Regions from separate parts of the Homo sapiens genome. Here all the other regions are linked to region 3. Evidence: fine-mapped expression QTL. A gene starts in region 3. Each other region holds a variant in brackets. All regions are shown on one strand. Distances are from middle to middle.

What was found. PIP is the estimated chance that this variant, and not a neighbour inherited with it, causes the effect. A credible set is the group of variants that fine-mapping cannot tell apart.
Region 1: its variant is the best candidate, but not a certain one, in a credible set for the expression of SLC2A5 in prefrontal cortex (GTEx, PIP 0.53).
Region 2: its variant is the best candidate, but not a certain one, in a credible set for the expression of SLC2A5 in whole blood (INTERVAL, PIP 0.62).
Region 4: its variant is the best candidate, but not a certain one, in a credible set for the expression of SLC2A5 in whole blood (TOPMed, PIP 0.81).

What each region holds. Positions count from the first base shown.
Region 1 is chr1:9,118,254-9,126,017 of GRCh38, forward strand. The region is part of intron 1 of GPR157 (G protein-coupled receptor 157); the gene reads right to left. Among named protein-coding and RNA genes, the nearest start is that of GPR157, 7.0 kb to the right of the region's middle. RefSeq lists enhancers at 3,368-3,868, 3,869-4,369. The variant G/A (reference allele first, on the strand shown) is at 3,145.
Region 2 is chr1:9,035,933-9,043,696 of GRCh38, forward strand. SLC2A5 (solute carrier family 2 member 5) reads right to left here. Exons shown (of 12, transcript NM_003039.3): 5 at 5,853-6,005; 6 at 4,132-4,257; 7 at 3,868-4,055; 8 at 3,620-3,730; 9 at 2,896-2,997; 10 at 2,499-2,574; 11 at 1,965-2,092; 12 at 1-1,857. The coding sequence ends at 1,654. Among named protein-coding and RNA genes, the nearest start is that of SLC2A7, 13 kb to the left of the region's middle. RefSeq lists enhancers at 1,263-1,332, 1,773-1,852 and a silencer at 4,064-4,264. The variant A/G (reference allele first, on the strand shown) is at 3,736.
Region 3 is chr1:9,065,655-9,073,418 of GRCh38, forward strand. SLC2A5 (solute carrier family 2 member 5) reads right to left here and starts at 3,981. Exons shown (of 12, transcript NM_003039.3): 1 at 3,850-3,981. The coding sequence starts at 3,882.
Region 4 is chr1:9,090,479-9,098,242 of GRCh38, forward strand. It overlaps a transcript of SLC2A5 not described here. Among named protein-coding and RNA genes, the nearest start is that of SLC2A5, 25 kb to the left of the region's middle. The variant TC/T (reference allele first, on the strand shown) is at 2,993.

The DNA.
Region 1 (7,764 bases), 53 kb after region 3:
ATAGGCAGCTTCCACTGAGAGAAGGTGAGTGCTCATGTTCAGGGGGTGCCATGACAGGTGCTGGGTGGGGGTGCAAGGTGGGGATGTGGGTTAGAGCAGGTGACCCATAAGGCCCCTCCTGTCTAAACCTGTGACTCTGAGGCTGGGAGGAGGCCAAGCTGAGCCTGCCTGGACGGAGGAAGCCCGGGACAGCCACCTCGTGTGTAACTCTGATTGGCAGGGGCACCACAAGCTTCTCCCAGAGGTACCTGGGCCCCAGTTCCAACTTGTATTTGCCTAGAAATGAAAGCCAGACTCCAAGTCGGCTTCCTTCCCACTCAGAGGCCGTTAAGGGTTCAATTGTGTCCCCTACAAATTTCATCTGTTGAAGTCCTAATCCCCAGAACCTCAGAATGTGAGTGTATTTGAGAGATAGGGTCTTTCAAGAGGTGATTAAGTTAAAATGCAGTCATCAGAGTGGAACCTAACCTAACAACCTCTGTGGTCATAACTTAAGAGGAAAGGCTGGGCATGGTGGCTCACACCTGTAATCCCAGCACTCTGGGAGGCCAAAGGATCACTTGAACCCAGGAGAGTTTGAGACCAGCCTGGGCAACAAAGTGAGACCCTGTCTCTACAAAAAAATACATAAATTAGCCAGGCGTGGTGGCACACACCTGAAGTCCCAGCTACCCAGGAGGCTGAGGCGGGAGAACCGCTTGAACCCAGGAGGTTGAGGCTGCAGTGAGCCGTGACTGTGCCACTGCACTCTAGCCTGGGTGAGAGTGAGACCCTGCCTTTTTTTTTTTTTTTTTTTGAGATGGAATCTCACTGTGTCTCCCAGGCTGGAGTGCACTGGCGTGATCTTGGCTCATGGCAAACCTCCGCCTCCCAGGTTCAAGCGATTCTTCTGCCTCAGCCTCCCAAATAGCTGGGATCACAGGCATCCACCATTACACCCAGCTAATTTTTGTATTTTTAGTAGAGACGGGGTTTCACCATGTTGGCCAGACTGGTCTTGAACTCCTGACCTCAGGTGATCCGCCCACCTCGGCCTCCCAAAGTGCTGGGATTACAGACGTGAACCACAATGACCGGCCAAGACTCTGTCTTCAAAAAAACAAACAACAACAAAAACAAGAAGTGATGAGCACACAGATCTTTACAAAGGGAAGATCAAGTGAAGACGCAGGGAGAAGATGGCCATATACATGTCAAGGAGAGAGGCCTCAGGAAGAACCAGTCCTGCCCTCACCTGGACCTTGCACTTCAGCCTCCAAAACTGTGAGAAAATAAATTTCTGTTGTCTAAGCCCCCAGGCTGTGGTACTTTGTTAGGGCAGCCTGAGGCTTTCTACAGACTAGGCGGGAGAGACATGTGTCCTGGCAGGCGGTACTATCCCAGCTCCTAGGGCCCCCAATCTCAGAGGTCAGGGATGACTTGGAAACTCCCTACCCCCACAATGCCCAGATTGGCAAAGCTGGGCCGGGACCCTCCACCAGCTCATGGAGGAGAAAATGACAAAAAGCCATTCATACTTGTCAGGAGCTTAGCCCTTTTTGGAACTCAACACCTTTTAAGTGTCCTCCAGAGAAAGGAAGTGGAAGTACTGCCGGGGATTAGCCAAGCAGTGAATAAACCATCTGCGAGACCTGAATTCCCCTGCGTGGTGTCGTGGTGTCGGTCAGATGACCACAGGCAGGCCACTTGTCCCCAGGACAGCAATGCTCTCGGTTTCCCTGCCCTTCAGAGCGGGTCCTTGGGAGTTCCCAGCGCTGCCCAACCGGGGATCTTCTGTTGTGTGGTTCCTGGAACCTGTCCCCACCAGAGTCAGGGTGGGGGCACCTGCAGACAGGGAGACACACCTCCACTTCACACACAAATGGACAGTTATATTGAAAAGCAGCCCACTGGTTTTCAAAGACCCTTAGGATGCCATCCCTGCTGCCAGGAAGGGGTCAGAGGTTAGACTGAAGGGGGCTCAAGGCAGAGTCTGCTCAATCACCTGCCCCCACCCTGGGATTCCTGTACCTTTTCCCCACCCCAAACTTCATCCTTCCTACAGATCTCTGGGGGCTGGCACCTGCCAGGAGGAAAACAAGCAGGTCCCTTCTCTGGGCCAAACACAATGCCTGGTGTAGGTACCATGAGACCTGGGGATGTTAACATAACTCAGAAAACGCTTTGAGAACCAAACTCTTGTGCAACAATATGCCAATTTAAAAACCTCAGGACAGAGCAGGGCTGGGGGAAGCCCAGCTGTAGGGAGTGAGGCCTGGTGAGAGGCTGCCTGGAGGTTTCTTCCCTGGGAACAATGGACACTTATTGTCCAGCTCCAGCGGCAGAAGGGTCAGGACTTGGGAGAAGTTCAGGGAGTCAGCCCCTAGGCCAGGCTACCACGAGGTCACTCTGCAGCTTTAACTGCAGAAGGGGAGAGGAATGTCTAAAGGAACTCGCAGATGCACACTCATGCCCTAGTGCCACCGTCTGTAGCCCTCAGCTCAGGGATGGGCAGCCTGAGTTCTCACACCTCCTGCCAAGTTGCTGGTGCTCAGCGCTCTGCCATGAGCTTCCTGCTGCACACAGGGACACAGCGCTGCCACCTTCACCAGTCACCTCAGAAAACTTTTATGGGGAAATAAACGAAACCAGTTCAATGATTGATATTTTCAGGAGTAGTGGCCGACATGGGGTACTATTCATGTGGCCACTGCATCCATCCCTCATTCAGATGCCACTGCCTGGGGAGACGGGCCAGCTCTGCCACTGGCTTGTCCTTGCAGTGCCACGGTGAGCTCGTTTCAAATTAGAGAACTCAGGCCAGGTGCGGTGGCTCACGCCTGTAATCCCAGCACTTTGGGAGGGCGAGGTGGCTGGATCACATGAGGTCAGGAGTTCGAGACCAGCCTGGCCAACATGGTAAAATCCCGTCTTTACTAAAAATACAAAATTAGCCGGGAGTGGTGGCGCACGCCTGTGATCCCAGCTACTTGGGAGGCTGAGGCAGGAGAATCGCTTGAACCTGGGAGATAGAGGCTGTACTGAGTAGAGATCACACCACTGCACTCCAGCCTGGGTGACAGAGCCAGACTCTGTCTCAAAAAAACAAAACAAAACAAAACAGGCCAGGTGTGGTGGCTCATACCTGTAATCCCAGAACTTAGG[G/A]AGGCCGAGGCAGGTGGATCATTTGAGGTCAGGAGTTTGAGACCAGCCTGGCCAACAGGGTAAAACACCGTCTCTACTAAAAATACAAAAAAATTAGCCAGACGTGGTGGTGTACGCCTGTATTCCCAGCTACATGGGAGGCTGAGGCAGGAGAATGGCTTGAACCCAGGAAGTGGAAGCTGCAGTGAGCCGAGATTGCGCCACTTCACTCCAGCCTGGGTGACAGAGCTAGACTCCATCTCAAAACAAACAAACAAAAAACAAATTAGAGAACTCTGACAACCTTCCAGCTCCAGGCCCAGGTTTCCCCTTTTTGCTACGTTGGGACTTCCCACTGCCCCCAGAGCAGGGTTTTTATGGCAAACATGGGGGGTCACAGACTCTTGCTTCCTCTGTAACCCTAGAGGGTGGATGAACGTGTGTGTGAGAGGCACGGGGGCTAGACCCTGCTGGAGTCATACCCACACCTGCCCCCAGCTCAGCGGGGCCAGAAGAAACTCAGAGATTCCCGAGATGAACCGGCTCGGCCAGGACGCTTCCTTCTGACCCCCAAATGAGCTGTCCCGACCCTTTAGCAGCCCCCCTATGCTCACAGGCCATACAGCTGATGCCTGGCCCCATGGAGGTCCTGGTGGAGGGGGTGGTCACCTCACCCCTGCTGACCCTGGTCTGGCATCACGCTGGCGCCCACCACCGTGAGGGGAGGAAGGGCTGCGCCACTCTTGGAAAGGCAGGTCCCCTTATGTGGGAGGTGGGGAAATGACCCCCTCCACAGCAGCTCTGGCCTCCCTCAGGTGGGCGTGGTAAACACACAGCCACTCAGGCACACCACATGAAAGTCAAAGACAAGGACGTCTGTGGGAGCCGCCTCACCAGCTAAGACAGAGTAGAAAGGGACTTCTTAAACACAGGGACTTCCCCTGAACATTGAGTATCTCACACAACCTTAAAAAAGCAACTGCCACCAAAAAATTCAAAATGCTGTCAGAATCAGTGGACACGAAACGCTTGGGTGAAAGCTGGAGACGTGATAGGCTTTCGAGCCACCGTTGTCTCTCAGCAAGACACTTCTTAACTACAAAAGGGAAAAGAGTTAACTTGCAGTGCAGGAACTTGGCAGATATCACCTTAGCCCAGTGATGAGAGTTAACATCACCAGTAAGGGAATATGTCCAAGTTGCTGGCCACCAGGTAGAAAGCAATGAGAAAAACATGTTTCTGGGATATCCTGCCAAACATGCACAACCTGAACCCACTTATGAGGAAGCACCAGACAAACCCAAATTGAGAGGCTTTCTATAAAATACCGGGACTGTACTCTTCAAAAATGTCAGTATCATAAAACACCAAGAAAGGTGGGAGAACTGTTTCAGATGGAAGGAGAATAAAGATATATGAAAATTAAGTCAACATACAAGCCAAGATTTTCCTTTGCTATCAGGGACACTGTTAGTCCACGGACAAAAATCTCAATAAAGGCCAGCTGCGGTGGCTCACACCTGTAATCCCAGCACTTTGGGAGGCTGAGGTGGGTGGATCACTTGAGGTCAGGAGTTTGAGATCAGCCTGAGCAACACGGTGAAACCCCATCTCTACTAAAAATACCAAATTAGCCAGGCATGGTGGCGCATGCCTGTCATCCCAGCTACTTGGAAGGCTGAGGCAGGAGAGTCACTTGAACACGGGAGGTGGAGGTTGCAGTGAGCCGAGAGATCGCACCATTGTACCCCAGCCTGGGCAACAAGAGTGAAACTGTCTTGGGTGGGAAAAAAAAAAAATATATATATATATATATAAATAAAATTTATATATATATTTATTAAAATATATATTTAAATATATATTAATTTAAATATATATTTAAATATATATATTTAAATATATATTTAAATTAATATATATTTAATTTAAATATATATTAAAATATATATATTTAATTTAAATATATATATTTAATTTAAATATATATTTAAATTAAATATATATATTTAATTTAAATATATATTTAATTTAAATACATATTAAAATATATATATTTAATTTAAATACATATTAAAATATATATTTAATTTAAATATATATTTTAAAAATATATAAATTATATATTCAAAATATATATTTAATTTAAATATATATTTAAATATATCTAATTTAAATATATATTTAAATATATTTTAAATATATATTTAATATTAATGTATATTTAATATATATTTAAAATTAAATATATTTTAAATATACATTAATATTAAATATATATTAAATATATATTTAATATTAAATATATATTTAATATATATTTAATTTTAAATATGTATTTATATATAATTTTAAATATATATTTAATATTATATATTTAATATTATATATATTTAATATTAAATATATATTTAATATTATATATATATAATATTAAATATATATACAAATATTTAATTTTAATTGTTTTGAGATAGGGTCTTGCTCTGTCACCCAGGCTGGAGTACAATGGCACAATCTCAGCTCACTGCAACCTCTGCCTCCTGGGCTTAAGTGATCCTCTCATCTCAGCCTCCTGAGGAGCTGGGACTGCAGCCGCACACCACCACACTCGGCTAATTTTTTAAATTTTTTGTAGAGACAGGATTTTGCCATGTTGCCCAGGCTGGTCTCAAACTCCTGGGCTCAAGTAATCCATCCACCTCAGCCTCCCAAACTGCTGGGACTACTGGCGTGAGCCACTGTGCCCAACCTAAAAATAAATTATTGTTGAAATTGTATCTCAGTTTTTAAAACCTGTTACAGCCAAAAGACAACATAGACTCCTAAAAGGAGTCTTGGACTGGGTCAGAAGTAGATTCTAACTCTGAGCCTCTCCTTTACTGAAGGGAGACTCCCTGAAACTATTGGTATGGCATAAAAGATGAAATGCTCCTGATTATTGTAAATACAAAATTGCATGCAGGATTGTGTAAAGACAATGCCAGGTTGGACTGCCAGAATGAGCCAACAGCGCGTGATGTGCTTCCCCCTGCAGAGAGCCTATGAATGGACGTGCAGTCAGGGAGGTTTCACATCACCAAGATTCCTATCCCAGAAAAGCAGATGTTCATAGCTCTGGGAATGGAATGCGACCCTTGTGGAGAGCCTATAAACGGACTCATGGGGTGTGCCTGTCCATATGGACAACATAGGGCTATAAACGCCCTCACCTATAAACACCCCACGGCTCTTCTAGGCCTCTTTAGGGTTATGGCATACTCCCTTCTGAGAATTTCTGGTCTAACTGGTTGTCTAGCTTCACCTCCCGTTGCTATGGATTGTTTGTAACCAGCTTTTGCTGCAACTGTTACTGCTGATTAATATCTTGCTAATCATAGGTTATGGAAAGACTGTATTTCTGTTTTAAGGCTCTGTTAGAAATTACTGATGCACACACTATATTGTAAATTCTTATCCCTGTATACTGTACTTCTGCATACAGATGTTATGTTAAAGAATTACTTCATCACCATGTGACCGTCTCACCTCATAATCAAATGACCCTAAATCCCTCACTAACCTACCCCCGCCCTCACTAAACTTAATAATAAATGCTGGTATATCCAGTGCATTGTTGGCACCGCGGGCGACCCCCCTGTTGGACCCAGCTTTCACTATCTTGTGTGTGTCTATTATTTCTTGACCTGCCGATCTGCCTGGGAACAAAGAGAGAGCCCCATTGCATTGCCGGCTGCTGGCCAGATCCCACAATACCTTACTAGCTATGTAGCCCTGGGCCATCACATCTGCTATGAGGGTAATCACCCCACCCATCCATTCTGTTGGGTTACTTTTTTTTTCTTTTTCTTTTTTTTTGAGACAGGTCTCACTCTGTCACTCCGGCTGGAATGCAGTGGTGGTCTCGGCTCACTGCAGCCTCAACCTCCTGGGCTGAAGTGATCCTCCTGCCTCAGCCTCCCAAAGTGCTGGGATTACAGGTGTGAGCTACCACTCCTGGCCCTGTTGGGTTATTGGTGATTAGTGAGCTAATGAATGGAACAGCACTCTGCAAACATCAGGGGCCAGACACAGCTCATGCTGAAATGTGATTTCCTGAGGATGAGGTCTAAACTGCCCTCCTCTCTCTGTAAAGGGGGCCACGCAGGTGCTCTCCTGGGAACTTGTGCACGTGCAGGATTCTCTCTAACCTCCTGCCTTTATGTGGCTGTAATCAGTGTTAGCGATGGTTTCTGTCACTTCGCATTGAATCATATCATTTAAAAAAATGACTTACAGAATTCAAAACCAGTATCAAAGAGCTGCATACCATTTCAGAAGGGGAGGGTAGACTCTTAACTTCCTGTTCCCCCACTGTTGGACCTTGAGGTCACTTCCAAATTCTCACCATAAGTGCCTCACAAACACCTTCGTACATACAGCTTTGTACATATTTTAGATTATCTCATTAGACTAGGCTTTGGTAAATAGGATTATTGGATCAAGGGGTATGAACCAAATACTTTCTACAAAGACTATTTCAATTCACACCATCAATAATACTGTAGAAAAATGCCAGTGAAACTCGCATTTATCATGTTTGTATTCTGCCTTTTTTTTTTTTTTTGATATGGAGACTTGCTCTATCACCCAGGCTGGAGT
Region 2 (7,764 bases), 30 kb before region 3:
TACCATGAGAACAGTATGGGGGAAATTGCCCCCATGATTCAATTATCTCCCACAGGGTCCCTCCCAGAACACATGGGAATTATGGGAGCTACAATTCAAGATGAGATTTGGGTGGGGACACAGCCAAACCATATCAAGACCCTGTTCCTTTTCCCTTCCTCCCCCACCACAGTCTCAAGATTTTAAGACTCCTCAAGATTTCATTACATATGTGAGGACATTTGGAAGCTTCCTCAATCTTACATGTATTTATTTATTTGAGACAAGGTCTCATTCTGTCATGCAGGCTGGTGTGCAGTGATGCAATCATGACTCAGGGCAGCCTTGACCTCCCAGGCTCAAGCGATCCTCCCATTTCAGCCTCCCAAATAGCTGGGACCCCAAAGGCGTGTCACCATGCCCAATTAAAAAAATTTTTTTTGAGATGGGATCTCACTGTGTTGCCCAGGCTGGAGTATAGGGTGCAATTTCAGCTCACTGCAACCTCTACTTCCCAGGCTTAAGCAATCCTCCCACCTCAGCCTCCAGAGGCCCTCTTCGAGATGCTGGGGATTCAGGCATAAACAAAACTGACCAAGCCCCTGCCCTCAAGGAACTGACACTCGTGCAGTCAAACTGCCTGAAGTGGCCGGGCGCAGTGGCTCACACCTGTAATCCCAGCACTTTGAGGGGCCTAGGTGGGCGGATCATGAGGTCAGGAGATTGAGACTATCCTGGCCAACACAGTGAAACCCAGTCTCTACTAAAAATACAAAAAAGTTAGCCGGGCGTGGTGGCAGGCGCCTGTAGTCCCAGCTACTCAGGAGGCTGAGGCAGGAGAATGGTGTGAACCCGGGAGGTGGAGTTTGCAGTGAGCTGAGATCGCACCACTGCACTCCAGCCTGGGTGACAGAGCGAGACTCCGTCTTAAAAAAAAAAAAAAAAGCAAAAATAAAAACAAAAAAAACACTGCCTGAATGAGCAGGGAACTTCCTCCTGCCTTCTACTTGCTCAAAGAACAGCAGCACGTCTTGTTGAAAAGTGATCAGGTTCATTTTATTGACTACACAGAAGCAATTCCATTTTCCACTAACAAAATAATTTAGGATGAAGAATTCTGACTCAGTGTCTCCACAGGAACCTGTTCCTCAGCTTTCTGGATGTCATTGTTTCTGACATCACACCTTCCTAGACAGGTATTTCTGGAAAAGGATCTGGTAAGAGGATGAATTTGGCTCTAAACAAATGCCCATGGCCCCGGAAGACCTGTCGGGGCCACCAAGTTAGTTTCTCTGGCAAAATTTGATTCCTTCCATCTCACCACTATAGTAACTGTTGTTGTTATGTTACCAGGAGCCACACAAAGGTTGACCCATCAAGGTGGAGCCACGTTACCAGGAGCCACACGAAGGCTGAACCAGCAAAGTGGAGGACCAGCTGTTTAATTGACTCGGGTCTGGTGACAGGCCAACATGGAGAGAGACAGCCCAGCTTCAAGAACAGCAAGGCAGCCCTTTGCACAGTTCCCACTGGGGTGGGGAGGCTGGAGATGAGGACTGCATTCCACATCAGAGTTGTTTTATTTCTGGATATTCACAGACAGCTAGAAGTCAGAAAAATAAGCCAAAGTGGGAAGCCCCTGGCAGACCAGCTCCACTGGCTTCCTCTCCAGAGTCACTGTTCCGAAGTGACAGGTGGAAGCTCTTTCAGTTCCTCCTTTTCCGGGTACACTTCAGACACCTTATTCATCTTGGTGAAAATCTGGTTGATCTCTATGAACGTCTTGGCCTTGGTCTCCGGGACAATCAAGAAGATGTAGATGGTGGTGAGGAGGCAGATCACGGCGAAGACAATGAAGCTGTACGGGCCGAGGCCCTCCTGCGGGAAGAGGGGCAGGTGACACGTGTGGGACGTGGTTTGCCCAGGGGCTCGCACTGTACTGCATGGGGATCTGGTGGTGAGCGTGGGCCCCGGGCCCCACTCACCTGGATGAACGGGAAGATCAAGCCCACGGTGAAGTTGGAGAGCCAGTGCACACTGCCCCCCACCATGAAGGCAGATGGCCGAGAGGACTGCAGGAAGATCTCAGTGATGAGCAGCGCGGGTATGGGACCTGTAGGGGGAGGAGAGCAGCCTCCCTGAAGGCAGAGCGGGCCCGAGCATCCCAGGCCTGGCCATGCAGACCCACCAGGTAGCTGGCCCCAGGACAGAGGCGTCTCCAGGACTCTTGGGCATGTGGGGCAGCACGTAGGGGGCAAACGGCAGTGTACAGGGATGGCAGGCCAGCAACCACCCGTTAGGCCCACTCTGCTGCCTGCACAGTCTGTGTGTTCCCACCCACACCACCATTTTACCATTTCGCTCTCATTATGTGCCACCCACCCCCTTGCGGTGGACGGGGGAAGAGATGCCATTTCCAGGCTGCATTGGCCATCCCTGGTATCTCTAAGGAGCTCCAGCCCGGAGCTTCTGGGACCAGGGGGGGTTGTGACACCCTGAGGCCAGCTTTGGGTACGTACTGGGCCCGAGGGCATGTCCTATGACGTAGGAGATGACACAGACGATGCTGATGTATGGCATCCAGGACACTGTGTCCTGTGGAGAGAAAGCAGTTGGTTCACCTGGAGCAGACAAGCTAGGACGGGACCCCAGGGGGCGGCCAACCTGCCCTGGTGGGTGGAGGATGGCACCTGGCTCCTCCCCCAGCAGTGCCACCTCGATGAGCCACTGGGAAATCAGCTGAACGTGGGCTATGAGCTGGCAGGACACACGGTCCCCAGATGTCTGGCCAGTTGTATTTGCTAAAACAGCTCATTGTGACCCCTTTTATTTTAAGGCAGGTGGAGGCGCAGGATGGGAGGGGCACTGGTCTTCCTGGTGCAGCTCCGGGCTCCTGGGACCCTGGCCTGTCCTCACCTGCAGTGCCAGAGCTGCAGTGAGCACGCAGCAGGCTATGAGGCAGATGGAGAAGCCCAGCAGCAGCAGCAGCCTCCGACCCAGGAGCTCCACCACGAACACCTACAGGAGGGTGGCAGGGCTCAGGCGGGAGAGGCCCAGCTTCACCTCCCTCCAGCCCCCTCCAATGGGGCAGCTGTGAGGAGAGCTGGGCGGACCGGGTGCCCACCCATGTGCACGCACACTCACATTCACATGTGCAAGACATGCCCTTGGGCAGCCAGCGGGAAGTCGGCTGTGGCTGTGATGCGGGACCCCAGCTGCCCACCCTTGAGACTCAGCTCTAGGGCCTCCTAATCCCACAACCCTGAGCCTCAGGATTCCTGCCCTCGGGAGGCCAGATGTCTGCATGCACCGGAGACGCTGCCCCCACGGAGCCTGCTCCCATCCCGAGGTGGCCGAGCCTCACTCCGGGTAGCCCGGGCTCGGAGCCACCCAGCAGTGGGCGCTGCCTGGTCCAGGCACGCCTACATCCCGGTCAGGTGGTGGCCCCGGGCCCGGTGCGGCTCGGCAGCCCCAAGTGTGAGGGGCTGGTGCGGGGCCACCTCCCACACAGAGTTTCTGTAGTAGCGGCTGGTCCTCCACGTTTTGGGGCCACGGGCTGCCCTTTTGGCGGCGCCGAGGCTGGGGCGTGGGGCCCGAGGGGCCTTGGGTGGAGGCTGTGGGCAGCTCCCAGGACACTCACGGCGCAGAAGGTCATGACCACGTTCACGGCCCCGGTGCCGGCCGTCACGTACTGCACGTGCTCCTCCGGCACGCCGGCGCTCAGGTAGATCTGGTCCGCGTAGTAGTAGATCTGCA[A/G]GGCAAGCGCGGGGCTGGGCGGCTGCCCGGAGGAGGCGGCCTCGGCGCCAGGACCCACGCCCGGCGCCCCAGGACCTGCGCCCCGCGCCCCCCGAGCCCTCCCCAGCTCCCGAGCCGCAGCCCGGCCCATACAGCGTTGACGCCCGACAGCTGCTGGCCGCCCATGAGGACGATGATGGACAGCAGCTGCCAGCGCAGCGAGCGCATCCGGAACAGCTTCAGCACGGAGATGAAGCCCGCGGCCTTCTCTGCCTCATCCTCCTGCCGGATCTCGGCCACCTCCCTGTCCACAGAGTCCCAGCCGCGCAGCGTCTGTAGGGCTGGGGAGAAGCGGCACCGTCGGACCAGGGCTGGGGAGCAGAACCTGGAGGCCGCCCCCGCCAGAGCCCTCGTTACCTTTCTTGGCGGCCGCTTCGTCTTTCTTCTGAATCAGCAGGTACCTGGGGCTCTCGGGGAAGAAGGGCAGCAGAAGGAGCTGCAGCGCCGCGGGGACCCCGGTCAGCCCCAGCAGGATCGGCCAGCCTGGGAGGAAGGCAGCGAGCTGGCACCAGCGGCCTCCCCACCACCCCGAAGGCGCCCTCTGCAGAGCCGGCCCCAGCCCCGTCATCCTGAGTGGGGTGCAGGCTCCAGGAGGGCACAGCTTTCCCAGCCCTAAGAACAGCAACTCCCGACGGTGGACACTCGGGAAACACCTGCAGCAGGGATCAGCAGCGACGCACCCCTGCGCCCATCAGACAGACCACACCGACGAGGCCGGTAATACCATGTGCTGGTGAGAACGTCCCCGTGTCCTTCAGAGGACAGTCTTGCAGGGGCTGGAGGAGCTGGGCATACCCGGCCTGACCCAACTGCCCACTCCCAGCTCTATGCCCAGAGAAGCCAGGCCACCAGGATGCCTGAACTGGAATGGTCACGGCAGCTCTGATTACAGAAAGGACACCAGAAACAGTGGGAATATCGTTAACATTCCACATAGAGGGGACACATGGGCTGGCTGCATTGGTACTGCAAAGGCAAAACTAGAGGCAAAGCAAAAAAATGAAGCACAGAGCTTCACAAATGCCTAGAGGGCCGTGTGTGGTTCTGAGTCCTGCTATGGAGCTCCCTGAGACAGGAACCTGGCTTATTCACTTCTGGTCCCAGCTCCTAATGAGAACGCGGCGCCTTGGCGTAAGTGTCCCCAACACATGCAGGAGTGAAGGAGAGGCAGGAGCATGTGGTACTTAAACAGGGACCTAGGTCTGTGCCGCTGGGTCTGCATCCTCATGAGACCTTGGACCAGTCTTCCAATCTCTCTGTACCTGTGATGCACCTGCAAAATGGGTATGATACTGGTACAGGCTTAATAGGGCTGTTCTGAGGAATACATGAGTTACTAAAAAAGACTTGGCACTTGGCTCACGGTAAGCACTTTCTACAGAGAGTGTCTAAGCAGCACAGAGCTTGATGATCCACTTGACTGACTTGCAGACGGTGTGTAGAACCCTGGCGGGAACTGGCTTATGTTTTGGCTGACGGGATGACTGATGATAGTTTAAAGGGAAAGTCGTGCAAAAACAACCCCGGTTACAGGTGTCTGTGCACCTGCCGCATGCCAGGCCCCAGGCTGTCTTGGGGAAGGTGGAGGCAGGGTCTGGGATGTCCTCACCACCTCCCCCATGGGGCCAGGCCACCCTCACTCCTGGTACTTCTCTTTCTGGTCTGCAAAATGGGATAATCACTGAGTCCCAGGCAGCAGCGTTGCTGGGAGGGTCCTATGAACTGATGCTGGGTCCGCCCCAAGCACAGAGCCTGGCACACTGGTGGCTGTCATTGCTATGCCACGGGCCTCCATATGGACAGCTGCTGAGCAGGCAGGGAAGCCCATCACTCAAAGCCACCTCATCCATCTCCTAAGAGGGACTAGATAGTAAACGCTGGCCAGTCCCTTATCGCGCCTTTGTCCATGGCCTGCTATGTTGGCTCGGGACAGGATGGGCCCCCCAAGGACATCCAGCCTGTTAGAAGAGACCAGTCTGCAGAAAGTCCTGTCCTGTGGTGGTGGCTTTGGAACACAAGGAGGGGGCCAAGGGTAGTGGTGAAGGGGTGGGGGTGCTCCCGAGATGTCCTGAACTCACCATCTACGTTTGCAAGGAGATTCCGAAGACCAAAGATCTGGGCCACAAGGATGCCAACAGTGATGAAGAGCTGGGGCACCACCCCGAGAGCCCCCCGCAGGTTTTTAGGGGCCAGCTCCCCTAAGTACATGGGGACCACGTTGGAAGATACACCTGGGAGGAGGTGAAATAGAAACACCATCAGAAAAAATTAGTCTGGCAGGGACAAGCTGTCTTCAAGTATACTATTCTTAGCAATAACATTATTTGGGCCAGAACTCTCTCAAAACTGCAAAGGAGAAAGCAAACACCTCTTTTAATTCTTAGCCCTTTATACTTTAAGGAAAGAGAAACAGATCAAAGGAGCTCATGCACAGGGGCCCTTGCTTTGGCCCATATCATCTGGGGACACTGGCCAGCTGGATCTACGGCCTTCCCGCTCCCTGGCCTGAGTCTAGACCCACTCACGTTTCTGCTTTTTGAGGAGGGTCTGTTTCATAAAAGGCAAGGCAGCTGGGTGTGATGGCTCGTGCCTGTAATTTCAGCACTTGGGGAGGCTAAGTGGGGAGGATAGATTACTTGGGGTCAGGAGTTTGAGACCAGCCTGGGCAACATAGTGGAACCGTTTCCACTAAAAATATGTATATGTGTGTGTGTGTGTGCGCGCGCATGATATATATGGCCTGTGTGTATTTACATATGGTGTGTATGTCTGTGTGTGTATGGCCTCTGTGTGTGTGTGTGTATGTGTATATGGACATGGCCTGGTGTGTGTGTGTGTGTGTATATATATATGGCATGTGTGTGTACATATATATATATATGGCCTCTGTGTGTGTGTGTGTGTGTATGTGTATATATATGTGTGTGTGTGGGTGTGTGTGTGGCCTGGGTGTGTGTGTGTGTGTGTATAGGGCATGTGTATGTGTATGTATATATATGGCATGTGTGTATGTGTGTGTATGTGTGTATGGCCCAGGACCCCTAGCCCCCAGCTTTACCTTATAGGAACAGTAAATAAACCAATGCAGAGATAGTTTCATACACCTTTAAGAACAAGTTATATGTCTCTATAAGCATTTAAAATGTCAACACATATTACGGAATATCTGCATTTCTGGGATTTCTGTAATGCCTGGACTACTTCTGAATCCCCAGTATTTAAACTTGTAAATATTCCCATCATACTTGAATCTGGTGGAGGGAAAACTTACTCTATTTTATAGAATGACGTGTTGCCTGATGTCAATTAAAAAAACATAGGCAGAATTTAATTTTGCAGCTTCCAAAGTATTTTCACATATATTGCCCTATTTAATTCTCCTAAAAGCACATCCAGAGGCTGGGGATGGAGAGGAAGTTTCACTAGTCCAAGTATCAGGTACCAAATCCTGAGTCAAATGGAGGCTCAGGGACGTGGGTCTCTGAAGGGAGGCTCTCAGGAACAGAGTTTGGAGTGAGCAGAGGTTGGAGCTGCTGTTGATGGCGGGGTATTTGATAGAACTGAGATAGGAGGGTACCTGAGGCCATGTTTTCCTGTTTGGCAATTCTACCCACAGATGTCTCTGCTCAGTATTTGAAAAGAGACATCACAGTTCATTAATATCGATTCTTCCTCATTTGCAGAGCAAAGAGGGGCAGTCTTTAAAGCAGCTCTTAGCATGTCTAGGTGGGAAGAGGGAGCAACACCTCACAGGCCCAGGGCAAAGGGCTGCAGAGGAAAGGAAGGCCTCCTGGGAGCTGAAGTGGGAGGCTGTGTCCTCACCACTTAACAAGAGCCACTTAGCAGCAAGAGCATCTTGGTGAAGGATATTAATAAAGGGTCAAACCTCAGGAGGTTTGTGAAGAGATGGGGTTACCTGTACGTTGGTGGAAAGCAATCTCTATTTTTGTCTTTAAAATGACTCCACTAGGACCTCCCAGCCAGCCAGTT
Region 3 (7,764 bases):
GTGTGGCCTTGGGCAACTCCCTGAGCTTCTCAGTTCCTTCACCTTTAGAATGGGGATAATGGGCCTGGCCTGGTGGTCCATGCCTATAATCCCAGCACTTTGGGAGGCCGAGGCAGGAGGATGGCTTGAGCCCAGGAGTTTGAGACCAGCCTGGGCAACATAGTGAGACCTCGTCTCTACGAAAAAATTTAAAAACAAGGCAGGAGTATCTCTTGAGCCCAGGAGGCTGCAATGAGCCGTGATTGTGCCACTGTACTCCTGCCTGGGTGATAGAGCCAGACCCTGCCTCAAAAAAAAAATTTTTTTTTGAGGATAATGATACCACCACAGGAATAAATGAGTTCACTGGTATAGAACACTTAGGACCATGCCTGGTCTGTAGTAGGTGTTACAAATGGGTTAATTAATCCATTAATTACAAATGAATATCAGTGAGGACCCGGAGAGCACAGAGGGGTGTCAGTTGCTCTAGGATACTCAACTAGTTGCTGGTGGAGCCACTCCACAAAAATGTGTCTTTATTTTCCAAAGCACTTCGGCATCTTTTTATTGAGGTGGGGAACTTTATTCAACAATCCTTTGTTTTTTTTTTGAGACAGAATCTCACTCTGGCTGGAGTCACGCAGGCTGGAGCGCAGTGGCACTATCTCTGCTCACTGCAAACTCTACCTCCCAGGCTCAGGCGATCCTCCCACCTCAGCCTCTAGAGCAGCTGGGACTATAGGCACGGTCCCCATGCCCAGCTAATTTTTGTACACTTTGTAGAGACCAAGTTTCGCCATGTTGCCCAGGCTGGTCCCAAACTTGTGGGCTCAAGCAATCCGCTTGCCTCGGCCTCCCAAACTGATGGGATTATAGGCCAGAGCCACTGCACCTGGCCCTCAATTCTTATGTAGTTGTAAAATACCTTGTTGTACCTTTTTCTTTTCCTAATCCATTTTATTTTTTTTTCTTTCAGACCAACAGTCTTTTCTTCCTGGCAGAAAGTCCTTGGTGCACATCTGATAGATGTCAGTGTTTGCCCTCTACATAGGAGAAAAGCAGGGCTGAGTGCAGTGGCTCAGGCCTACAATCCAAGCACTTTGGGAGGCTGAGGCAGAAGGCACACTTGAGCCCAGTAGCCCAAGACCAGCCTGGGTATAGTGAGACCCCGTCTCTTCAAAATATTTAAAAATTAGCCAAGGGTGGTGCTACATGCCTGTAGTCCCAGCTACTCGGGAGGCTGAGGTGGGAGGATTGCTGGAGCCCCGGACTTCAAGGCCGCGGTGAGCTATGATCCCACCATTGCACTCTGGCCTGGCCAACAGAGTAAGACCCTGTCTCAAAATTAAAAAAAAAAAAAAAGGAAAAAGAAAGAAAAAGAAGAGAAAAGGCCAGTGAGGCCACTGCCACACAACCACTGAGGGGCAGGCAGCTGGCTCCATACTGCCAGACGCCCTCCTCCCCGGACCGCGCAGCCTCTGTAGCCTTCGCCTGCCCCCGCATTTCTCCTTGGCTCCTACCTCCCCTCTCGGCTGCACTTAATGATTTCCCGGATTCTTACAGACCATTGGGATCGCTTCCTTCAGAGTGTTTTGGGAAGCCCAGCACGCCCCAGCTTTCTCCCCAAGGGGCAGGCTGCTCTCAGGAGCGGGAAGCCCATCCCCACCTTCATCCCTCTGGCCCAGAGGAGGCTTCCTTCCCTGGAGGGCTGAGGCAGCAGGCAGCTGGGTCAGCCCATGCCTCTCGCATGTGGCCATCTGAATCATTTCCTTTCGCAATGTGTTACTCAGTTTCAGGGCCTGCCACGTGGGGGTGTTTCCATTCCTTTCTGCAGCTGGACTTGGTGGACGTGGGGAACGTGGCAGTTGTGCCTTTCTCTGGACAGCGGAGGACCTCCCTGGACCCCAAACACCTAAGTCCTCATCACCTCCGTTTCTTTTCTATAAAATGGAGGTGATGACACTTGATTTGTCTAACACTTTCTTAGTTGTAAGACAAACAAGATGACCCAAGCGAAGGGGCTGAGTAGACTCCAAAGCAGTGCCTCTCAGTTGAGGGCTGGGAGTGGATTCTGCCCTCTCGGGGACATCGGTTGTCACTCCTGGGGGAGGGAGCTACTGCGTCTAGAAGGTAGAGCCAGGGACGCGGCTAAACATCTTATAACACACAAGACAGCCCCTACAACGAAGCGTTAGCCAGTGCCAAATGGAAATCACGCGGAGGTGGAGAAACCAGCCTAAAGAATGATTGAAAAGTAGTAACATTTACGATGGCCGGGCGCGGTGGCTCACACCTGTAACCCCAGCACTTTGGGAGGCCGAGGCGGGCGGATCACCTGAGGTCAGGAGTTCTAGACCAGCCTGGCCAACATGGTGAAACCCCATCTCTACTAAAAATACAAAAATTAGCCGGGTGTGGTGGTGCATGCCTGTAATCCCAGCTACTTGGGAGGCTGAGGTGGGAGGATCGCTTGAGCCCAGAAGGTGGAGGTTGCAGTGAACCTTGATCGCACCACTGTACTTCAGCCTGGGTGACAGAGCAAGACTCTGTGTCAAAAAAAAAAAAAAAAAAAAGCGAGAGAGAGAGAAAGAAAAGTAGTAACATTTACGGGGAACTCACTCTGTGCCAGGTACTTTACATGCATTATCTCATTTAATTGCTCCAGCACCCTATGAGGCGGTATGGTTATTACTCCCATTTTACAAATGAGAAAACTGAGGCACTGAAGAGTTAAAGAACTTACCCAAGTCCCACAGCTAGAATAGGATGGAGCAGGAATGAATCCTGGGGGCTTCTACTTCCCAGGCCCACTCTTTTTTTTTTTTTTTTTTTGAGATGAAGTTTCGCTCTTGTTGACCAGGCTGGAGTGCAATGGCGTGATCTCAGCTCATTGCAGCCTCTGTTTCCCAGGTTCAAGTGATTCTCCTGCCTCAGCCTCCTGAGTAGCTGGGATTACAGGCACCTGCCACCACGCCTGGCTAATTTTTGTATTTTTAGTAGAGATGGGGTTTCACCATGTTGGCCAGGCTGGTCTCGAACTGCTGACCTCAGGTGATCCACCCACCTCAGCCTCCCAAGACCCACTCTTAATCTATGTGCTACAGAGCATGTTTCCAGTCTGCCTATGGTGAGGGTCTCACATCCATGCCTGAACAAATGCTGTTTTGCAAAAATGTGCACTATCCTTCCTCCACTCCAAATATAAGCAGATGCTATTGTGATGAATAAATGCAAATTCTTATAAAGTGTTAATAAGTCAGTGTTACTTTTCTGACATTATGCATTTTCCTCAATCAAGGGAATCTAGAAAGTAAACTGCAATTACGTTGCAGGAGTCCATGAAAATCTTTCCTCTCTAAAACAAGGGAGCCTCAGGATCTAAAAGGCAGGAAACCTACGTGACAGATCTGAACTAAATTCAAATCAAGCAACGCCTTTTCTGAGTTTATCTTGCTTTCATGCAGCTCAGCTATGTTACTTGCTGAAAAAATTAACTGCCCTGAAGCCAAAAGCAAAACGAAAGCAGAGCGAAACATCTCACCAACCATAGAAGGATTTTGCAGCTAACATGTTTGGTTCAAGTTGGGACAAATGAATCCTTTGGGTCTCTTCCATTCAGTTACAGATCCTGCTGTTAAAGGCTGTTCCAGTAGAATGATTTCCACAGAGCACTTGTCTCTAAACCTCTCTCCTCCCTATAAAAGACCACCTGCTGGACAAGACTTTCCCCCTCTCCCCACCATAATCCCTCCCAACACAGAGTTCCCTCTGCAACACCAGGAGCCCCCCAGCGACTCTCCAGGAAGGCTGCACAGGCCCTGGCAGCCAAGCCTGCTCTTGGCCCCTTTCCCTGAGCAACACACTCACCCCTTCCTTCATGCTCTGATCCTGTTGCTCCATGCTTGCTCTGGAAGGGCAGAGTGCCGCTCACCTCCTTTTAGCCAAAGTAACGCGTGCACTGAATGGAGAGAGAAGACATTCTGGGTGCACTTTGGCCATGCCAAATAACAGCCAATAGCATTTTTATAGCCAGATTAAGTCAGAATAACCCTTTCAGGAACCTGGTCTTCCTTTCACTTCTGCTTTTAAATGAAACGTCTGGGGTTTGGCTAAGTAAGTGGGTGCCCCCTGGGGACTGCAGGCCCAGCATTGTCCTGATGGAACAGTCTACGGTATTTCCCCATTGCTAAAGTCTCTACCAGTCAGGCTCATGGTGAATGACTGGAAGGGTTATTTCTGTCAGGAACGCATGGCAAACAACAGCTGTCCTCCACCCTACATGACACCAGGTAATCTGAGGGCAACAGATTGGGCCACTAGAGACCTCAAAGATGCTCTCCCTGCCAGGAAAACTACAGTCAAGTGTCTCTTGGTGGAGAGTCAGTTTTGCCCAAGTCACCGTGTAATACTGTTTGGGGAAAGTTTCTCATTTTCTGTTTTTTTTTTTTTTTTTTTTTTTTTTTGAGACGGAGTTTCGCTCTTGTCCCAGGCTGGAGTGCAGTGGCATGATCTCAGCTCACTACAACCTCCGCCTCCCGAGTTCAAGCGATTCTCCTGCTTCCACCTCCTGAGTAGCTGGGATTACAGGCGTGCACTACCACGCTCGGCTAATTTTTATATTTTTAGTAGACACGGGGTTTTGCCATGTTGGCCAGGCTGGTCTCGAACTCCTGACCTCAAGTGATCCACCCTCCTTGGCCTCCCAAAGTGCTGGGATTACAGGCGTGAGCCATCGTGTCCGGCCTCTTATTTTCCATTTTAAGGAGCTCAGAATGACCTAGGGATGTTACTTTCTGTGTATTCATCACTACTGGGAAGGTGGTAAATACCTCGAACCCCTTTCCAGGCAGGGCAGGGAAAATGAGTCACACCTGCTGGTCCGGGTCCGGCCATCTCAAGGCCAGGCCACTGTCAGCCCCCCATGTTTGGCACTCATTCAGCTGCCACAGGGCACACCAGCGCAAGTGGCCAAAATCCAAAGTCTCACAAGTCCCACAGGTTTTCATCTTTACAGAACATACTCCCAGTTCTATTTGCTGTGGCGTAAATCCAGTTACTTTAGTGATTGATTCTGAATCTCATGCATCTTTAAACAAGCAGAGACTGGGAGCCTGTGTTAGGCACTGTTCCTTGCATTAGCAGCAAATCCCCAGGGTTGCTCAGGGTGGGAGACTGTGAGAAGCCTAGCAGCGTGGCCGTCTGTGTGTGTGTGTGTGTTGGGGGGTCGGGGGGGTCCCTATTCACAAGGGAGAACTCAGCATTCCCTTTCACCAGCTACTGCCTGTCTTTTTCTTCTGCGTATCACTGTCCTAGCACACTGACTTGTGACTAACGCATAGCAAGACCAGAGGTTTCCAATTATTTCAAAGATCTAGAAAAAGTTTCCAAAGAAAATGCACTTTAATTGCAGGGGTAGGGTGGGGAGAGGAAATCAACGATGGGGGAGTGAGGAGACGGGTACAGGTGTGCAATCCAACACAAAGAAGAATCCGGCCGGGCGCGGTGGCTCACGCCTGTAATCCCAGCACCTGGGGAAGCCAAGGTGGGTGGATCACCTGAGGTCAGGAGTTCGAGACCAGTCTGACCAACATGGTGAAACCCTGTCTTTACCGAAAATACAAAAATTAGCCAGGCATGGTGGCAGACGCCTGTAATCCCAGCTACTTGGGAGGCTGAGGCAGGAGAATAGCTGGAACCCGGGAGGCGGAGGTTGCAGCGCACCTAGATCACACCACTGCACTCCAGCCTGGGCGACAGAGCGAGACTCATCTCCGTCCCCCATCCTCCCCCCAAAAATAATCGTCCAAAGTTTGTAGTCATCAGTCATGTCAAGTGCATGACACCTGCTTCTATCTAGGCCCAGATCTTCCACTTCTCCCTGCCTTTGGGCGAGGGGGTAACTAAAACCGGGGGTCGCTGGGGGGGACGCGGACACTCCCAGTCCCCGCCTTGACGGCCCAGCCCGGGGAAGCGGGGACAGTGAGCCAGGCCCTCAGGCCCAGAGGGGATCATCCCGGGAGCTGCGGGCCGCAGTACCCGGTTCCTGCCAGTGACAGGGCGTCGCAAGCACAGCCATGGCGTCACCAACGCTCGACCCGTGCTTCCGCCCTGGAGGGAGCCGAGCGCGGGGACGGGGGCGTGGCGGGAGGCCGTCATGACGCCAGGCTGCGGGCCGCTCAGCCAGTCCCTCTGCCTGGCGGGCCTGCGGGCTCCGGGTGGGTCCTGTCCCTGCCCAGGACCCCTCTGCCTCAGCCCGGATCCCCCTCGGCCTCTGCCTCAGCCCGGGTCCCCCTCGGCCTCTGCCTCAGCCCGGGTCCCCCTCAGCCTCGGTCCCCCTCTGCCTCAGCCCAGATCCCCCCCAGCCTCAGCCCGGGTTCCCCTCCGCCTTTGCCCGAGTCCCCCTCAGCCTCACCCGGGTCCCCTTCAGCTTCTGCCAGAGTCCCCCTCAGCCTCGCCCGGGTCCTGCTTCTGGCCAGGGACCCCCCAACCTTCGTGGCGGGCGGACCAGCCTCCAGGCCCCTGCCTCAGGCCGCCATGAGGCCGAGGCCTGCAGGCTCCGCGAGCAGGGCGGGGTGGGAGACTGTGAGAAGCCTAGTGGCTCAAAGATGGAGGAGGGGGATGGCAGCGGTGAGGTGGGACTGGGGGGAGGGGAGTGGTCCTGGCAAACCTGAGGCAAGAGGATCGCTTGAGCCCAGGAATTCGATCATGCCACTGCACTCCAGCCTAGGTGACAGAGCAAGACCCTGTCCCTAGAAATAAAAAAAATTAAAAATTAAAGTTCCATCTGGATGTCCAGAGGTGAACTGATGAGGGGACAAGAGACCGCTGGATTTGGAAGTGGGGAGAAGGAGCAGTGGAAGGTCTTTGCCGTAGCCCAGGTGAAAGAACAATGTGACTTGGACCAGCATGGGGATGGAGAAGACAGAAGTAGATACACTTGAGGGATATTTAGGATGGAAAATTGACAATCACTTGGTGATAGGATGGGGGAGAGGAAATAGGAGCGTTTCTGTTACTGTTATAATAAAACACAACTAGGCCAGGCGTGGTAGCCTGTAAACCCAGCACTTTGGGAGGCTGGGGCAAGTGGATCACTTGAGGTCAGAAGTTCGAGACCAGCCTGGCCAACATGGTGAAACCCCGTTTCTACTAAAAATGCCAAAAAAAAAAAAAAAATTAGCCGGTCGTGGTGGTGTGCGCCTGTAATTCCAACTACTTGGGAGGCTGAAGTAGGAGAATCGCTTGAACCCAAGAGGCGGAAGTTGCAGTGAGCTGAGATCGCACTACTACACTTCAGCCTGGGTGACAGAGCGAGACTCTTGTCTCCAAAAAAAAAAAGTAAAACAGAAATAAAAGTTACTTTTCTGAATCAGAATGAAAAGCAAATGTTTTATATAAGAAAAATTTAACCAGGGCAAAATATTGGGTTAACACCATACCACAAAGCAAGCTGGCACATCTCCGGGCTGTTCTGTGACCAGACAATGATACCAGGACTTCAGTCACTACTGGCCTCACCTCTGCTAGGAATGTTCTAGAATTTTAAAGTTTTGCCACGGGCCTCTTTTGTACAGGCTGCTAATGGCTTCTCCTCCCCATCCATAAATCCATTTGGTCAGTGCCTCTTCTGTAGTAATAGAATTGGGAACAAGACCTGCGGCTGCCCAAAATAAAGACATTTCCCCATTGCTCTTGCAGTCAGTACAGACATAAAGTTCCGCTTAATGCAGTGTATGCAAGATGCCATATGGCAGGCAGCTTCCAGAAACTTTGCTCTCTTAG
Region 4 (7,764 bases), 25 kb after region 3:
CAATAATCCTATTCTCCCAATTAAAAAACAGGATGGCTCCTATAGACTGGATCAGGATTTGCGACAAATCAACTCCGCTTTTGTTCCTGTTTATCCTGTTGTCCCCAACCCCTATAACCTCCTGTCATGAATTCCTCCCAACACTAGCAACTTCTCTGTAATAAGCCTTAAAGATGCCTTTTTTACTATCCCTCTACATACCTCCTCTCAAAATCTTTTTGCTCTCACTTGGACTGATCCTGACACAGGCTGCTCCCAACAACTCACCTGACTGTCCTCCCCCAGGGGTTTAGGGACAGCCCTCACTATTTCTGTCAGGCACTTCAATTAGACCTCTCCCAACTACCTCTACAACCTAGCATTTTGCTTCAATATGTGGACAATTTACTCCTTTGCAGCCATTCCCTAAAATATTGTATTCAACACACCACCAAGCTTTTAAATTTTTTGGCTGAATGGGTACTAGGAATCCAAAAGAAAGGCCCAATTAACATCTCCGAAAGTTTCATACCTAGGATTAATCATAACTCCGAATATCCAGGATATTCTGTCAGCACAAAAGCAACGTGTTCAACAAATCCCATTTCCTAAAATAAGAAGGGACTTACTTTCCTTCCTCGGATTAGTGGGCTATTTCTGAATATGGATAGCAAATTTTGCCATTATTGCTAAACTCCTTTATTAACACACTAAAGGAAATCTTGACCAACTACTTACTCCCATCCCAGACCTTCTATCATGCTTTCTTGCACCTAAAACATGCCTTATTACAGGACCCCGCTTTAGGCCTTCCAAATCCGCTAAGACCTTTTCATCTATATTTACATAGTTCTCATAATCAGGCCCTTAGACTTCTAGCCCAACCCATGGGAAACTCCCTCCAACCAGTGGCATATTTTTCCAAACAACTGGACCCCGTTTATAAAAGCTGGCCTCTTTGCTTAAAATTTTTGGCCACAGCTTCAATAATTACACACAAAAGCTCACGTTCTATGAACCTCTTCAAGTATTTCCTTCTCACAGTCTACAAGATATGGTCAGCCATAAGGTGCTCATCTCCATCTCATCCTCTCATGTGCAAGCCCTATATTCAACTCTCTCAACCCTCTATCTCTCTTCATGATGCCCCCTGTTAATCCTACCACTCTTACCTTCAATGCCAATTTTAAACCCTGACCAACACTCATGCTCTAATCTAATTGAAAGTTCTCTCACCATGTTTTACCACCTTACTTCCACTCACATAAAAGGAGTCCCAGATTGGTTTATAGATGGGAGCGCATCAAAAAACCCTCCCCTCAAAGCAGGATATGCCATCATTGGAGGGTATCATGATAATATCCACTTTCTCCCACCTAGAAAAGTCACAGAGGCTGCTCCCTTGCCTTTGGGCACACCCTCCCGACAAGCAGAACTAGTTGCCCTAATAAGAGCACTAGCTCTAGCAAAAACACACACACTTTAATATATACACCGATTCTAAATATGCCTATAACATTATTCATTCCAGTGCTCAAATTTGGAGTGAGTGGGGCTATCTCACGGCTCAGGGAACCCCTATCATTAATGAAAAACCCATCCATCATCTATTAACGGCAGTTCTACTTCCAGAAAAGGTTGCAGTTATCCATTGCAACGTACATCAATCGGACAAAAGCCACATTTCTTTAGGGAACAATGAGGCTGACTTGGGTAAAACATGCCTCAACCAATCACCCAATTCCCCAATATCTATTTCCCCTCATACAACATATCCCCTCTTTTTATCCAGAACACCAAACACAACAACTAACCACAGTGGGGGCACAATTCAAACCCTACATACTGGTTCATACAAAACAAATTAGTCCTACCTGACCCTGAATAAACAACTCTTCTACGGGACATTCACAACCTCTTCCACACTAGCCATTTCCCTCTACACCATTTCTTAAGTTTCCATATACACTTAACCCCAGATATAAAGGAAGAGTTAAAAGCCATTTCCCATCAATGCTCTATTTGCCAAAAAGCTTCACCCCACTCCAATACCCCCTTCTTTCCCAACCCACCAAGCCAGAGGACACCTTCCAAAACAGGATTGGCAAATTGATTTTACCCATATGCCCCCAGTAAAAAGGGTTCAATTTCTTTTAGTTCTGGTTGATACCTTTTCGGGATGGGTTGAGGCCTTTCCCACAACAAACAAACGAGCTTCTACTGTCGCCTCCAAATTAATAACAGAAATCATCCCCAGGTTCAGGGTGCCTCTTTCTTTTCAATCTGATAATGGTCCTGAATCCATTTCTCAAATTACTCAAACACTTGCAGGAGCCCTACAAATCACCTGGAAGCTATGCATCCCCTATCAACCTCAGTCTTCAGGAAAGGTTGAGAAAATGAACGGCATTTTAAAAAACACCCTCACCAGGTACTCACTCCAGACACATAAAGACTGGGTTACCCTTTTGCCTTTAGCCCTTCCAAAAATTTGGGCGCTCCCACGTAAGCCTCTAATGCTCAGACCCTTTGTACTCATGTATAGGAGACCACTCGCCCCTTTTGCTGCACCTCAGGGTCAAGCCCCACCTCTACAAACCCCTCTCGTTTCCCCTCTTCTGCATACCATCCGCCATTTCATTTGGGAATACGCCGACAAATACTTGCCACAACCCATCGCCAACTCCTTTAATCCCTTCCTACAGCCAGGAGACTGGGTTCTAGTAAAAGATCTCAGCCCTACCCCCAATCCCCACCTCACACCTAAATGGAAGGGACCTTACCAGATCATCGTTACTACACCCACAGCAGCAAAACTCCAGGGACTCCCCAGCTGGTTTCATCATTTTTCTCTCAAGAAAACAGACTTCCCTTCACCACATACCCAAACAACCAAATCTAAAACCCCTTCAGCCTTCTGTTACATCTCCACAGGACCAACTTCCCTTCGCCTCACCCAAATCCTGGAGGAAAAGGAGGAGGAGTGCACATAAGCCGCTTATGTCTCTTTGTC[TC/T]CCAAACTTTCATCACTTCCTAACCAACCTTACTACAGACCATCAGTGGTATGCTTATGAAACTCCCACTGTACATCCTGATCAGCTCCTCACTATTCTATGGGACCTATGGCTTCAAGGAGCTTTCCAGGACTTTACTCTTACCCAAATAACTTTTTTCTCTTTTTGCTTGTTTCTTTCAATATAAATTCCCTAATCACATCAACCTCACCAATACAACCACTCCTTACTGCTCAAACTAGAACGCTCTATAAACCTTACACAATCTCTCTTGTGGCAAGCTAACTGTTCCTTTTTTTCGGAGACCTGGATGTGCTTACCGCTGTCTTCCTCAGCTTACACAGCCCTTCCTGCACCCCTTCATGACCTTTTAACAGGAAACATAACCCTAATCTATCAACTCCAAAAAGGAGCTTCGTTTTTGGAAAAAGCTGACATGCTGGTCGGCAATTATCCCATTTCCAGGGCAGATCAGGCCAACAAATTATTTCAAACCGATTACAACTCCCTAGAACACCTTAAGCCCCAAGGCCCTCCCATTGAAGGGCCCATAACTAAACACACGCCCCTTTTACAACAAGCCTCAATTTGCTTTTCAGCCTCTGGGGGAAGTTTCCCTGTAGGGTTCTTAACTTCTAACTAATGCAGCCACACTATCATTGTTAAGCACCCCTCTGACCATCACACTCACCCGGTTGACTACCAAGTATTGCCTGAAGCGAACGGAGCATTCCTGCAACGGCTCCTTTTACTGCCCCTCCCCCTGGCCTAACCTCTGCTTCCCCTAGTGCCCACATTTTTCCGTGGCTCAGTATCAGTGGCGCAACATCTGACCACATTAGATGTGTAAAAAAAACTCCTCCAGATGGGCACGGTGGCTCACGCCTGTATTCCCAGCACTTTGGGAGGCTGAGGTGGGCGGATCACCTGAGATTGGGAGTTCAAGACCAGTCTGACCAACATGGAGAAACCCCGTCTCTACTAAAATACAAAATTAGCCGGGCGTGATGGCATGTGCCTGTAATCCCAGCTACTCTGGAGGCTGAGACAGGAGAATCGCTTGAACCCAGGAGGCAGAGGTTGCGGTGAGCCGAGATCGCGCCATTGCCCTCCAGTCTGGGCAACAAGAGGGAAACTCTGTCTGAAAAAACAAAAAACCCTCCTCCTATACTCCTCCTATATCTCTACTATAGTAGGTGTGTCTCCTTGGCCTCCTCCTTGTCCACCTGGAGTAATGAACCACAGGAAAGGAAAAATATCCCATCTTTAATTCACTTATTTTCTTTCCATATCTCTGCCTATATTTACGACAAAGCCTTATTCTTTTTGTGTGGCACCAACACATATCTTTTTCTCCCCACCAACTGGACTGGAACCTGTACCCTAGTTTTTCTGTCTCCCACCATTGGCTTAGTTCCTCCTAATCAGCCTTTATCCATCCCATCCGTCCAGTATGTTAGAAAAAGGAGGGCCATCCAAGTCATTCCTTTAATGGCCACCTTAGGTATAACCTCTGGGACTGGGTTGGGAGCAGGAGGATTACCCACCTCCTTAACATACTTTAAAGCTCTGTCAACAGACCTGCAGGATTCATTAGAAGATATGGCCCAAAGCCTTATATGAGTCCAAGACCAATTAGACTCCTTGGCTGAAGTAGTCCTCCAAAATAGACAAGGGCTAAATCTTATAACGGCTGAAAACTGGAGCCTCTGCCTCTCACTGGGTGAAGAATGTTGCTTCTGTCTCAACCAATAGGGCCTAGTAAGAGATGCTGCTAAAAAAACTTAAAGAAAGGACTAAAAAGCTAAGAGAATACCAAGACAACCAAGTAAATTCTTGGTTTAAACACAAAATCCTAACATGGGTCATCCCATTCCTGGGCCCTCTCCTAATAATATGCCTAGGACTAATGTTCTTACCCTGCTTAATGAACCATTTTCAAAGCTTTTTAACCAACAGGATCATGGCCATCTGACAACCAACTACCCAAAAACATCTACAATGGAGTTACTCCTGTAATTAATCCGAAACCAAAGAACTCTCCGCCCTCTGCCCCCCAGCCCTCAGCAGGAAGTAGCCAGAAAGAACACGCCGCCCCTCATCCTTTTTATAACTATAGGGACTGGATTGACAGAGCAGGAACATTGCCATCTTGAACAAACACCGCCATCCTACGTTCCCGTTGATGGATGAAAAACCGCCTAAATCCAGCCCCAGAACATCAGCCTAATGGCCAATATTAGCATAACTGGAAACATTCCAATGCTAAGATAAACCCCTCTCTGACCAGAAACATGCCAACCCCAAGACAGCCTCCCCTCTGACCAGAGACATTCTAACCCCGCAATAAATTTTCCCTCACATAGAAACATTCTGAACCTACAATAAGCTCACCCACCTTCCAAAAAACCCTTAAATATCCTTAGTCTGTCAGAGAGAAGGGCTCTCTGACCTAACTCAGCCGGAAGCCCCTCTCAGGTTTGTTTTCTCTAAAATAAACCTGTCCTTAACTGTCAAGCCACATTTTGTGTTTCTTTCTTGTTTCTTTAAGTCTTACAGTGCTGAGTCCTCCTCTGGGTGGGGCCACAGGATGGGTTGAGTCATGAGTCCAGGTAGAGTTAGCCATCATCAGAAATACAAGTCTGAGACATCTCAAAAAGCAAATCTTAGGTTCTACAATAGTGATGTTACTTACGGGAGTAATTGGGGAGGTTATAAGTCTTGTGACCTCTGGAACAATGGCTGGTAGTCATTTACCTATGCCTACATCTTAGCAGAATTCAGGCCCCTCTCATAATCCTAACCTTGTGGACTTTCATTAGTTTTACAAAGGTGGTTTAGTTTTGAGAAGGGCTATTATCATCCTTGCTTTAAGGTTAAACTCTAAACTAAATTTCTCCCAAAGTTAGCTTGGCCCATACTCAGGAATGACCAAGGACAGCCTGGAGCTTAGAAGCAAGACAGAATCAACAATGTTGGATTTCTCTCACTGTCATAATTTTTGCAAAGGCAGCTTTAGAAGCATTAGATTTCATTTAAGCCTCAATATCACCCCATTTTAGATGAACCTGTGGCTGAGTGAGGTCAACATTTTCTCAGAGTAATACAAGGATAAATAATGGGCCAGGTACAGCAGCTCATGCCTGTAATCCTAGCACTTTGGGAGGCTGAGGCAGGTGGATCACCTGAGGTCAGGAGTTCAAGACCAGCCTGGCCAACATGGCAAAACCCCATCTCTACTAAAAATACAAAAATTAGCTGGGCATGGTAGCATGTGCCTGTAGTCTCAGTTACATGGAAGGCTGGGGCAGGAGAATCGCTTGAACCCAGAAGGTGAAGGTTGCAGTAGGCCAAGATCACACCATTGCACTCCATCCTGGGCAACAGAGCAAGACTCCGTCTCCAAAAAAAATAATAATAATAAATAAATAAAAGATGGAGTCCACTTCTCGGCCTTGTGGCCAAGATCAAGTATAATAAACAATGGAGCCATAGTTGGAACTCAGTCTCTCTCTTTCCAGAGCCTCGTCGTTCACAAACCTGGTCGTCGGGACCCACCTGCTTCTCGTTTCCTTGGAGAATCAAAGCCATCCCCTCAGCTTGTCTACTGTAAGATGACTTGATAAACACACGGCTGCCTTCATCAATATCACTTCACTATGCCCAGGAGATTCTTGTCCTGCAAGACAACTGCTGCAAATAACTTTATGGTTCACTCCAGGAACTTCCTGGAAAGATTCATCAGCTCTTCAATAGAAAGCATCCAATGATAGCTTAGACTCAAAACTCATTCAACTAGCCACCAGCAAATCCTCATCATGCTGTGCTCACATGTGTGAAAGGATTACATCACGACTTGCTAATCCCAAGAAGGCTGAAAGACTCATCTGAAACTATATGTTTTGATCTTCAAAAATATGGACTAGGCGTGGTGGTTCACGCCTGTAATCCCAGCATTTTGGGAGGCAGAGGCAGGTGGATCACAAGGTCAGGAGTTCAAGACCAGCCTGGCCAACATGGCTAAACCCTGTCTCTACTAAAAATACAAAAATTAAATTAGCCAGGTGTGGTGGCGCATGCCTGTACTCCCAGCTGCTAGGGAGGCTGAGGCAGGAGAATTGCTTGAACCTGGGAGTTGGAGATCGCGATGAGCCGAGATCGTGCCACTGTACTCCAGCCTGGGTGACAGAGCAAGACTCCGTCTCAAAAAAAAAAAAAAAAAAAAAGAATAAATACCCCAATGTTGTTCTCTCCTACTCTGAGACCCTGCTAGTGAAACTGCCACTGCAAAATTATGACTGAGACGGTGAAAGAGATCTGACCTAACCAACTCCATCTTCCTTCTGACCTCCAAGCTGTTCTTGTTCATTCCTGGGCATGGGCTGAACTAATCTGGGGAGGAACTTAGTTTATAGTTTAGAAAAAAGAAGATAGCAGCCCTTTTCTCAAGGTAGATCCCCTTCTTGTTAGCCAAAAGATTAGAAAGTATGGTTTAGCAGTCATGCAGCTGAGGATTCAAGATTCTGACCCTCCCCAAATTGCTCCTAGGCATAACATCACTATTGTAAAACCTAAGGTCAGTGCCTGAGATATTTTGCAGGCCCTGCACTTGATGGATCAGCTGGCACCAAATCGATAAACTGGCCCATCTCATCTTGTGGCCCTCACCCAGGAACTGACTCAGCACAAGAGGACAGCTTCAACTCCCTATGATTTAATCTCTGACCCAGCCAATCAGCACTCCCGACTCACTGGCCCCTCCCCACCCACC